Regions from separate parts of the Homo sapiens genome. Here region 1 is linked to region 2. A link means that fine-mapping ties the variant in region 2 to the plasma level of a protein whose gene starts in the linked region. Region 2 holds a variant in brackets. A gene starts in the other region. All regions are shown on their forward strands.

Region 1 (5,376 bases), not on the chromosome of region 2:
TAGCATTTTGGATAAGGGATACTCAACCTGTACATGCAGTATGAATATATATTCCTATTTTTTTCTTTTTTAGGCAAACGCTAACATACAATATACACTTCTGTACCTTCTTTTTATCACTTACTAATTAGTATGTCTTAGAGAGCTTTTAAAAACCAGTATATAGACTTGGAGAGTTTCTTCAACTAATTTCACAGCTGTTATATTTTACTGTATAGCTACATCAAAATTTATTTAACCATTTCCCCATTGATTGACACAGGAATTGGTCCTAATCTTCTGCCATTACATATAATGCTACAATGAATAACCATGACATTTTGTACTGTGGGAGTATATCTGCAGGATAAATTCCCAAGAATGCAATTGTGAGTCAAGGATACGTGTGTTCATGAATTTGACAGATATTCCCAAGTTGCCCTCCATCAGAATTACATCAACATGCCTATATAGAGCATGCCTATTTCCCCACAACCTTGCCAAGACAGTGTGTTATAAAACTCCCAGACTTCTGCCAAACTGATAGTGAGTATGGTAGTGAGGAAGAGTTTTTTTATTTTTATTTTTATTTTTGAGAGGGAGTCTAGCTCTGTCACCCAGGCTGGAGTGCAGTGGCGCGATCTCGGCTCCACTGCAACTTCCACCTCCCGGGTTCAGGCGATTCTCTTACCTCAGCCTTCTGAGTAGCTGGGATTACAGGCACGTGCCACCACGCCCGGCTAATTTTTGTATTTTTGGTAGAGACGGGGTTTCACCACATTGGTCAGGCTGGTCTCGAACTCCTGGCCTCAAGTGATATGCCCGCCTCGGCCTCCCAAAGTGCTGGGATTACGGGTGTGAGCCACTGAGCTTGGCTGTTAAAAAATAAATTACCTTGAGTTGACCTGGCGCCTTGAGTTTAACTCTATCATTATCAATTCAGTTTGTTTTGGGTTTGGAGGTTAACCCTCCAATGTGTAGAACTTCATATTTGCATTATTTTTGGCCTATAACTTTCGAGTGACTGAGACTTCAAGATGTGCATTATGGCTTAAGTCGTCTTATACATCTGCAACAGCAGATGTATACACAACCCACTCAAAATTTGTGTGTGCAGTAATATTTCATTTGGGACATATTGTTTGTAAACTGATGCTATTTAAATTACTTGCAGCATAATCTCAACACATGTAAAAATACTTTTACACTTGTAGGATATTGTTTTATAATACAAATTCTTGTGTACAAACTCCATTAACATTTTATTTATGTACAGATCATTATTACCAGTTTTTGTTTCCCAGTTGAGAGTGGGGAGGGCAGATGGGCTCAGAATCTTTGCATGTGCCAGCATCCTGCAGTCTCAAACTTTTCCATTCAAAGCAAATACCTGTGCCAATATCTGTGTCACTTCCAACAAGAATGAATGCTGCCTAAGTGCTCTCCACACATTTGCAAAATGACATCAGGCCCCCCAGGTCTTCCAAGAACCAAAGGAAAAGTTCCACAAAAGTGAATCCTGCCATACAAACAGTCCCAGCACTTTCCAGCTCCTTTTTCATTCCAGATTCAAAGGTCTGGCACCAGGATGAGCTGAAGTGTAAGGCATCCACCACTCTCCCCCTGCTCCTACTCCCATCCCACCCAAAGCCTTGTCTAGAGAAAGCTCCTCCCAGCCTCAGGCCCAGGAATGGGAATCTCTGTGGGTCACACATCAGTAGGGAGGTCTTTCCCGATCCTTTTCTATGCTACTCCAGGAGTCAAAGCGTCTCCTGGGACTTTTCAGGGCGCTTCAGAAGAGCCCTGGGCCTAAACCAGCTCAACCAAGCTGCAGGGACCCAGCCTCCTGAGAAAAGTGAATGTGAGCCCGGTGCATTCAGAGGAGAATGAAGCCTTCACCCAGAACACACTCTGGGAAGATGTCCCAGGCCCAGGGGGAGGGTTTGTACTACCAGACCTAAGTCACCTAAACTGACACCAAGTCTCATCCATCCCAACCATTCCATTCCGGGTCAGAGGGGTCATCGATTTAACCAGCAAGGCTGCCCATCCAACGGTTGCTCCCTCTGCTCCCTGGAAGGGCCTCCTCGTGGGCGTTCTGTACCTACAGGTCTTGTTCCGTTCTGGGAACTGCCAGTGGTGGCAAGAGGTGGAGCAACGGGTGCCAGGGCAGGGAGAGGTGAGTCTGGGAGGGAAGCAGAGGCAAGATCCATGGGGCTTTAGAGACTTTGCCAAAGCAGTGCGACTGCTCCCAGGTTGTTGTCAGCCGTCAAGAGTGAGTGCACCTCCCTGGGCAGACTTCTGCTGCCCCAGTGCCCAGGAATAGGCAGGGGTTTGCCGCAAAATGAATGACACCTGGCAGACAATAAGCTGAAGCTTTCATTAGCAGCTTAAGCTGAGGACTATCTATGCAACCGATACTCCCTGTGTGCTCCCCGGGACTGCTTAATGTGAGCCCTTGTGGAGCGATTGGCACCAAGAAAGCAAGGACTAAGTCAGAAGTTCAAGTCCCAGCCTTGCCACAGCCTCAGGGTGCCCTCGAGCACAGCAAGCCTCAGTTTTCCCATCTGTACAATGAGAGAGGTACACAAGGTAGACTCGAAGGCTCTTTGTTGCCAGGGCCCTGTGTTCCTTTGAGTGTATGTGCTTCTCAGGCCCACAGAGGTCCTTTGTGTTTCGTATGTGAACTGCTCTCTAGGAAACCCATGTAACTGTCTGTGTCCTGGGGCACATACATGAGGACTCATGTGGGCCGTATTGTGTGTTTGTGCCGGGGGGAGGGGAGACCCCAGAACAATGTCCCCCACCCCACCCCCCTCCTCAATAGGCGGAAGCCACTGGCTTCCTCCCTTTCCTGCCTCCTGCCTCCTTTGTGCCAGCAAGACTGAGTACTGGAGAGAGACAGGGGATGGGAAAAATCAGTCCAGCTGTCCCCAGGTCTGCCCTTACCATAACCTTCCCCCCACCTCAAGTGACTCCTCCCAGGCCACACCCATCCCCAGCCTTGTGGGGGCCAGATTGGGGGGCCTAGAGGCTCAAAGGCAGAATGAGTCCTCCCACCCCCTACCCTGCCACCCCTCCCACCCAAGCCACCTCATTTCCTCTTCCTCCCCAGCACCGACCCACACTGACCAACACAGGCTGAGCAGTCAGGCCCACAGCATCTGACCCCAGGCCCAGCTCGTCCTGGCTGGCCTGGGTCGGCCTCTGGAGTATGGTCTGGCGGGTGCCCCCTTTCTTGCTCCCCATCCTCTTCTTGGCTTCTCATGTGGGTAAGTCTCCCCTGAGTCCCTCACCCCATTTCTAGGCCCCGAGGCCCTGATTTCTACCCAAGAAACCCTATTTTATCATAGAGACAGAAAGTAGGATGATGGTTGCCATGGGCTGCAGGGAGGAAGAAATGGGGAGTTTTGTTTAAAAGGTACAGCGTTTTTACAAGATTTTTACTTGGTTTTACAAGATTAAAAGAGTTATAAACATGGGGCCGGGTGCGGTGGTTCATACCTGTAATCCCAGCACTTTGGATGGCTGAGATGGGAGGATCAATTGAGGCCAGGAGTTCAAGACCAGACTGGTCAACATAGTGAGACCCCGTCTCCATTGTGTTTAGACTTTCGTCTTTTTCAAAAAAAAAAAAAAAGGATGGATGGTGGTGATGGTGGGACAACACTAGGAATGTATTTAATCACATTGGGTTATATGCTGCTTACAAATGGTTAAGATGGCAAAATTTGCCGGGTGTGGTGGCTCACGCCTGTAATCCCGGCACTTTGGGAGGCCGAGCGGGTGGATCACAGGGTCAGGAGATCGAGACCAGCCTGGCAAACATGGTGAAACCCCATCTCTACTAAAAATACAAAAATTAGCCGGGCGTGGTGGCAGGAGCCTGTAATCCCAGCTACTTGGGAGGCTGAGGCAAGAGAATCGCTTGAATCTGGGAGGCAGAGGTTGCAGTGAGCTGAGATCGCGCCACTGCACTCCAGCCTGGGCGACAGAGCAAGACTCATCTAAAAAGAAAAAAAGATGGTAAAATTTATTTTATATGCATTTCACCACAACAAAAAATTTTGGAAAACAAGCCCTATCATCACTGCCATCACTTTGATCCACTAGAAAGTGAGATCAAGGCCAGGAAAACACAGGCAAGTGCTAGAAATCACTGCAACCTGGGATCAGGGGAGGAGTGAGGAGTAGCCGCTGACTGTGTTGGATCTGAGGATCTGTGGAGGGCCATTTTCAGGGGGTGTTCATAGGGTAATTGTGTTGGATTCACTCAGTTGTTCACTGGACAAACATTTATTGAGCACCAACAATATTCCAGGAGTTGTGCTAAGTGCTGGGCCATTAGTTGAGAGGCTGGCAACACCTAGTCTGTACAATGAGATTAAATGATGCCAGCCTCCTATGGTTGTTATGGGGTTTAAATGAGAAAATGATGCAGAGCAGTTGGCACAGTGCACTGTGCTTGGTAAGGATTTCTGAGTAGGTGGCAGCTGATTCCTTCAGTCTGCTGGTCAGCCGATTAGAACACAGAGGCTGCCTTTGAGTGGTTCATGGTCTAGTGCAGAACACAGGACAGGGGAAGAGGGCTAAACAGGGACAGACACAGGAGCTCTAGAGGAGCACTGAGGAGGAGTTCAGCTTACACTGCCTCAGGTAGGAGACAAAAAGGGAATCAAGGAAGATTTCACTAAGAGGGGTGGTCTTCATTCCAGGCAGCCAGAACATAAAAAATGCAAGTCTCAGAGGCATGGAGGTGCATGGGAGAGAAGGTGCCTGTTAGGAACACAACAGGAGGGATAGCGTGGGAGCATCACGGGGCTTAGGAGCACGAACATTATCCTGAGGGCAATAGGGAGCCATGGGAGGTCACAGGCAAGAAAGTCACAAGGTCAGGTTTGGTCTTAGATCACCGTGGAGGATGAGTTGCAGAAGGAGGGGCTGTGGCTGTTGGGATGGTCTAGGTGAGTAAGGATGAGGGCTGAACAAAGGCAGGCTGGGGGGGTGGGGATGAAGTCAAGAAGCGTTCAGGAAACAATGTGCAGAATTCTATGACTGATGAGGCAGGCAGCACAGTGCTCAGAGATGTGGACTTTAGAATCAGACAACCTGGCCCTGCCACTCACTAATTGTATGACCTTGGGCAAGTTACTTAACTTCTCTGAGCCTCCCTTTCCTGGCTATAAAACAGGGATAATAACATCCACCTCCCAGGATAGCTGGGATGGTAAAATGAAACAATATCAGTAAAGTGCCTGGTGCATAACTGGCAGCCAATAAACATTCATTATTATGACAATGGGAGTAGAGATGACTCCATAGTTTGTGTCTCAAGTGGCGGGTGCTGTCCAGTGAGTCAGGGAGCACTGGAGAGGAGCAGATTTGGGAAAAGCTGAT
Region 2 (5,315 bases):
ATGTGGGGCACAGCCAGCACACAGCACTTTCTGTGAGCAATGGTTTTTTTTTTTTTTTTTTTGGAGACAGTCTTGCTCTGTCGCCCAGGCTGGAGTGCAGTGGCACAATCTCAGCTCACTGCAACCTCTTGCCTCCCAGGTTCAAGCGATTCTCCTGCCTCAGCCTCCTGAGTAGCTGGGATTACAGGCACATGCCACCACGCCCAGCTAATTTTTGTATTTTTAGTAGAGACAGGGTTTCACCATGTTGGCCAGGATGGTCTCGATCTGACCTCGTGATCCACCCACCTTGGCCTTCCAAAGTGCTGGGATTACAGGCATGAGCCACCGCACCCGGCCACAATGGCCTTTTTGTCACTGCTCCCTGTGCTGTTTGGTGGCACTGTTTTCCCATCCTATGCTGTCTTGACTCCCACTGAAGAATGGTGGTCTCAGGCCACAAGCATGGGAATGTCTGGGGTGCTGGGAACACAGTGCTGGCCCAGCTGGGCAGGGGGCTTAGCTGGATGTCCTGGCAGGGGCACAGCCCTCTTATACCCCCTAAAACTCCAGCATGGCCTTGCCCGATGATGGGTGTGGAGTCACTCAGCATGCCACCCCTACATACCCAAAGGCCCCAGGTCTGCCCCATGTGCCCCGACTCCCACAGAGACCCCCCTCCCAGCTTTGCTCTTGTGGACCCTTGAACATCAGGAAACACAAACACAACCCAAACCCCTTCCAGAGGAAAGCTCAGGCCTGAGGTCTGAGAGCACAGCACCCCAGCACTTCACGAAAAGGTGTGTGAAATCCTAAGCTCTCGCACTTCTGCCTCTGCATCAGCCCAGGACACCACTCCACCCTCTTGGCGGGTAGGCCTCTGTGGAGGTGAGTCACCCCTGCCTGGACACCGTGCTGCCCTGCTGCTG[A/G]GGACACTTATACCTCAGCTCAGAAAACAGGGCCTCCAGACTGAGTGAGTGGCTCATGCCTGTAGTCCCAGCATTTTGGGAGGGCAAGGCAGGAGGATCGCCTGAACCTCGGAGTTCGAGACCAACCTGGGCAATATAGTGAGACCCTCATCTCTGCCAAAAATTTTTATTTAATTAGCCAGGCACTGCGGCACATGCCTGTAGTCCCAGCTACTTGGAGGCTGAGACAGGAGGATTGCTTGCACCTGGGAGGTGGGGGTTGCAGTGAGCCAAGATTGTGCGAGTAGTGCCCCCAATGGCTCCGCCAACCCCGACATGGCAGGTTTCAGCTCCATCACCGCCCTGTTCCCTCACCCCACGTGCCACTCGCATGTCTCTCTCAAAAAGACACCCCCACTTTCCCCCAGCTCTGCTCAGCATAGTGGTCTCCACCTCCTGCCTCTCCCTGCAGCAGCCTCTCCAAGATGCTGTCCATTCTGGAAATTGAAAATCCAAAATCAGTACTTAAGGGCAAGCATAAGGTGCCAGCAGGACCAGGCTCCCTCTGGAAGCTCCAGAAGAGAATTCGTCCTGCCTCTTCAACGGCCAGTGTCTCTTGGCTTGCGGTCACGTCACTCCACTCTGTCTCTGTGGCCACATCGCTGCCTCTTTTTATCAGATCTTCCTCTGCCTCCCTCTGATAAGGGCCTTAGAGATTACATTTAGAGCTCAACAGGATGATCTTCCCATCTCAAGATCTTCTACTTAGTAACATCTCCAAAGTCCCACATGAGTTCACATTCATAGATTTTGGGGATTAGGATGTGTATATCTGTGGGGGCCATTATTCAGCCAATCACAACGAATATACAGCACGATCCTAATTTTCATAATACAAAATAAAATGTTTGTGTGTGTATATATATATATATATATATATATACACACACACACACACACACACACACACACACACAATAAAATGTATATATACAGATAAAAAACCTGGAGGGATCTAGGTTACCTGTGGGATATGGGACTGTGGGAACTTTCTGTGTCTATAATTTGTGTAGTGTTTGAAGTCTTGTAACATACTAATTTTATCATGACACACCCAAAATTTACTTGTAGATTCTCTCTGGATTGATATAAACATGAAGAATTTTATTTTATTTTATTTTTTGAGACTGGGTCTTGCTCTGTTGCCCAGACTGCAGTGTGTAAAATCACAATTCACTGCAGCCTCGAACACCAGGGCTCAAGTGATCCTCCCACCTCAGCCTCCTGAGTAGCTGGGACCATGGGCACACACCACCATGCCCAGCTAATTATTTAATTTTCTGTAAAGACAGGGTCTTCCTATGTTGCCTAGGCTGGTCGTGACCTCCTGGGCTTAGGCAATCCTCCTGCCTCATCCTCCCAAAGTGCTGGGATTACAGGCATGAGCCACTGCACCCAGCCACATGAGGGACTTTAAACTATCTGGTGACATTCACACCTGAGGCAGGTGCTCCCCAGGGGGCTATCTCCGGAAACAGAGTGACCCACCAGGGCTGGGCCCCAGGGGCTTCCGCACCGCCACACCAGCAGCAACGCCCTGCTGACCTGCAGCAGGGACAGCAGGGAAGGGGTACAGACAGAAGAAAACAATGACAAACAGCCTTCCCTCTCCCCAGTCAAGGCCACGGCAGGGAAGTGAAGGGGACATCAAAAGGAGACCAAAGCTTTGTCCAAGGAGACTCTGAGAGCAAGGGTGAGAGGCACACTGTCCACACAAACTCCTGCCAGACAACCTCAGAAGAGGGCATCAAAGCTTTGTCCAAGGAGACTCTGACAGCAAGGATGAGAGGCACAGTGTCCAGCACAAACTCCTGCCAGACAGCCTCAGGAAAGCCAGGCCCAGCTCCTTTCAAAAGCTCAACACAGGACCAGTGAACAGCCACAGGCATTTACCATGTGGTCGGTGCTCATCAGGACACGGAGGGTCACTGCCTCCCTCACTCTGCAGGGTTGTATGGAGTGGTGAGTTCTTTTAAAATTCTCTGTCTCCTGAATGCTATGAAGGTGGGCAGGACATGGTGTTTACTGAGTCCTGTCCAGCCCATGAAGTCCAAAGGCACAGCTGGGCATGGTGGCTCATGCCTGTAATACCAGCCCTTTAGGAGGCCAAGGTGCGATGATCACTTGAGCCCAGGAGTATGAGGCCAGCCAGGGCAACATAGGGAAACCCCGTCTCTACCAAAAAAAAAAAAAAAAAAAAAATATTAGCCAGGCGCACACCTGTAGTCCCAGCTACTTGGGAGGATGCTTGAGCCTGGGTGGATCATGATGGCACCACCACATGCCAGCCTGGGAGACAGAGCAAGAACCTGTCTCAGAAAAGAAAAAAGAAATACAAGGGCACAATTTGGTAAGTGCTCTCACAGAGGATAGATAAAGGGTCCTGAGATACAGAGGCGGGAGACTTACTCTCAAAGACAGAATCCAAAAAGGCTGCTTTCGGGGAAAAGTGGCCTGAGAGTCAGGCCTTGTTGGACAAGTTCCCCTAACGTGCTAAGCAGAGACCTGTTTCACAGGCCAAAAGAGCATGGAAGCTCAGCCAGAGGGACCCAGGCGGGCCCACCTCACGCCTGTGTTCCTCGGCAGCCTCTGCTGCCCCCTGGTGGCCATGCTGTGCACACCGCCACCAGACGAGGGCGCCACCCACAGGCACCACCTGCTCCCACCCTCAGGCAGTATTTCAATGGTCCCGTGGCTCTGGGCCACGCCCACATGACTAGCAGCCACAGCTGATCCCATGGCCTGTTGGCCACCCCATCAGCAGCCCCTGCTTCTGATTTCTCCCCGTGCTTTTTTTTTTTTTGGAAACAGAGTCGCCCAGGCTGGAGTACAGTGGCACAATCTCAGCTAACTGCAACCTCTGCCTCCCAGGCTCAATTGATCCTCACACCTCATACCCCCAAGTAGCTGGGACTACAGGTGCACGCCACCACACCCAGCTATTTTTTTTTTTTTTTTTTTTGTATTTTTTGTAGAGACGGGGTTTTGCCATGTTGCTCAGGCTGGTCTCAAAGTCCTGGGCTAGGATGACAGGCATGAGCCACCGTGCCCAGCCTTGCCTGCGCTTTTCCTCCCACACTCCAACCAGATCCGCAGACGAGGCTGAGGGGCCCTCCATCTAATCAGAAAGGGCAGCCCTCTGCATGGACAGGCCCATAAGCATGTGGCTCAGCAAGGACGTGGCATCTTGTACAGAGTGCACAGGCCAACACATGTGCACACACAGGGGCGTAAGGCCACCAGGTTAGGTCTCTGTTCTGCACATGGGAGGGCCCCGCATCCAAGCTTCCTGCCCTTAGTTCCCGTATGTTGTTCATGCACCACTGTGAGACCCCCATGGCCCTGCCCGCTGCTGCCCTGCCCACCCCCTAGCTCTGGTGCCTCAACCTCCAGGACTGCAAGCACCCCAGTCCTTTCTCTCACAGACTCGCCTTACCTCTCTGAGACAGAAGAACAAGTCAGTCCCGTGGCTCACTCACAAAGCCAGCCCTGAACCCAGGTCTGACTCAGATGCCAAAACCTCCAGCCATCCCAGGGACTGGCCCCACCCCATGGTGGGCTGTGCCGCGGCTCTCAGCTGGACACAGCCCCTGTGGATGTACTGTGGCAGGCGGCCTGCCTTTCCTGATGCCCCAGCACCGCCACATGCCACCCATCTGGGCCTCCAGAGCTATACCTGCAGCAAGGCCAGGTCCGCATCTTGGGCTAGCTGCTGCAGGTTCTTCACAGCAGATGTGGTCTTGATCACCCGCACTAGGGCAGGGGAGCAGTCAATAGGAAGCTCACCCAGCAAGGACTTCTCATCACTGAGCAGCAGCAGGGCATGGTAGGGGCTGCAAAACAATCACCTGTCACGGAACACACGAAGTGCAGGAACCCTGCACCGGGTATGCACCAGGTCCTGCACCAGGTATGCACCGGGTATGCACCAGGTCCTGCACCAGGTATGCACCGGGTATGCACCAGGTATGCACCTGGGACTCAAACACACGGAACATACGAAGTGCAGGGAACCCTGCACCAGGTATGCACCAGGTCCTGCACGAGGTCCTGCACCGGGTGTGCATCAGGTATGCACCTGGGACACAAACAGGCAGCTGGAGCCTCCTGGCCCTTAACTGCGGAGAGAAGGGCCAAGAGCGGGATTTGAGAAAAGGGCAGTGGTCTGTTTGGAGGCCTTCACAAAATCTGCCAAGGACTGGCTCATGCCTATAATCCCGGCACTCTGGGAGGCCAAGGCAGGCAGGTCACGTGAGGTCAGGAGTTCGAGGCCAGCCTGGCCAACATGGTGAAACCCCATCTCTACTAAAAATAAAAAAATTATCCGGGTGTGGTTGCACCCACCTGGGGTCCCAGCTACTCGGCAGG

Direction of the effects. Positions count from the first base shown, and alleles are read on the strand shown. Strength reflects both the effect of a copy and how common the allele is.
In carriers of allele G in region 2, the plasma level of the protein whose gene starts at base 3,104 in region 1 tends to be higher than with A alone (weak association).

Evidence for each region. A credible set is the group of variants that fine-mapping cannot tell apart. PIP is the chance, under the fine-mapping model, that this variant and not a neighbour inherited with it causes the effect. The UK Biobank Pharma Proteomics Project read protein levels with antibody pairs (Olink). The fine-mapping took linkage between variants from a reference panel, not from the people measured, so its PIPs are less certain.
Region 1: TIE1 starts here. The variant in region 2 is the best candidate, but not a certain one, in a credible set for the plasma level of the TIE1 protein (UK Biobank, PIP 0.66).

What each region holds. Positions count from the first base shown.
Region 1 is chr1:43,297,879-43,303,254 of GRCh38, forward strand. TIE1 (tyrosine kinase with immunoglobulin like and EGF like domains 1) reads left to right here and starts at 3,104. Exons shown (of 23, transcript NM_005424.5): 1 at 3,104-3,251. The coding sequence starts at 3,194. RefSeq lists a silencer at 2,944-3,043 and an enhancer at 3,074-3,163.
Region 2 is chr16:93,522-98,836 of GRCh38, forward strand. NPRL3 (NPR3 like, GATOR1 complex subunit) reads right to left here. Exons shown (of 14, transcript NM_001077350.3): 9 at 4,624-4,780. Among named protein-coding and RNA genes, the nearest start is that of MPG, 18 kb to the left of the region's middle. The variant A/G (reference allele first, on the strand shown) is at 909.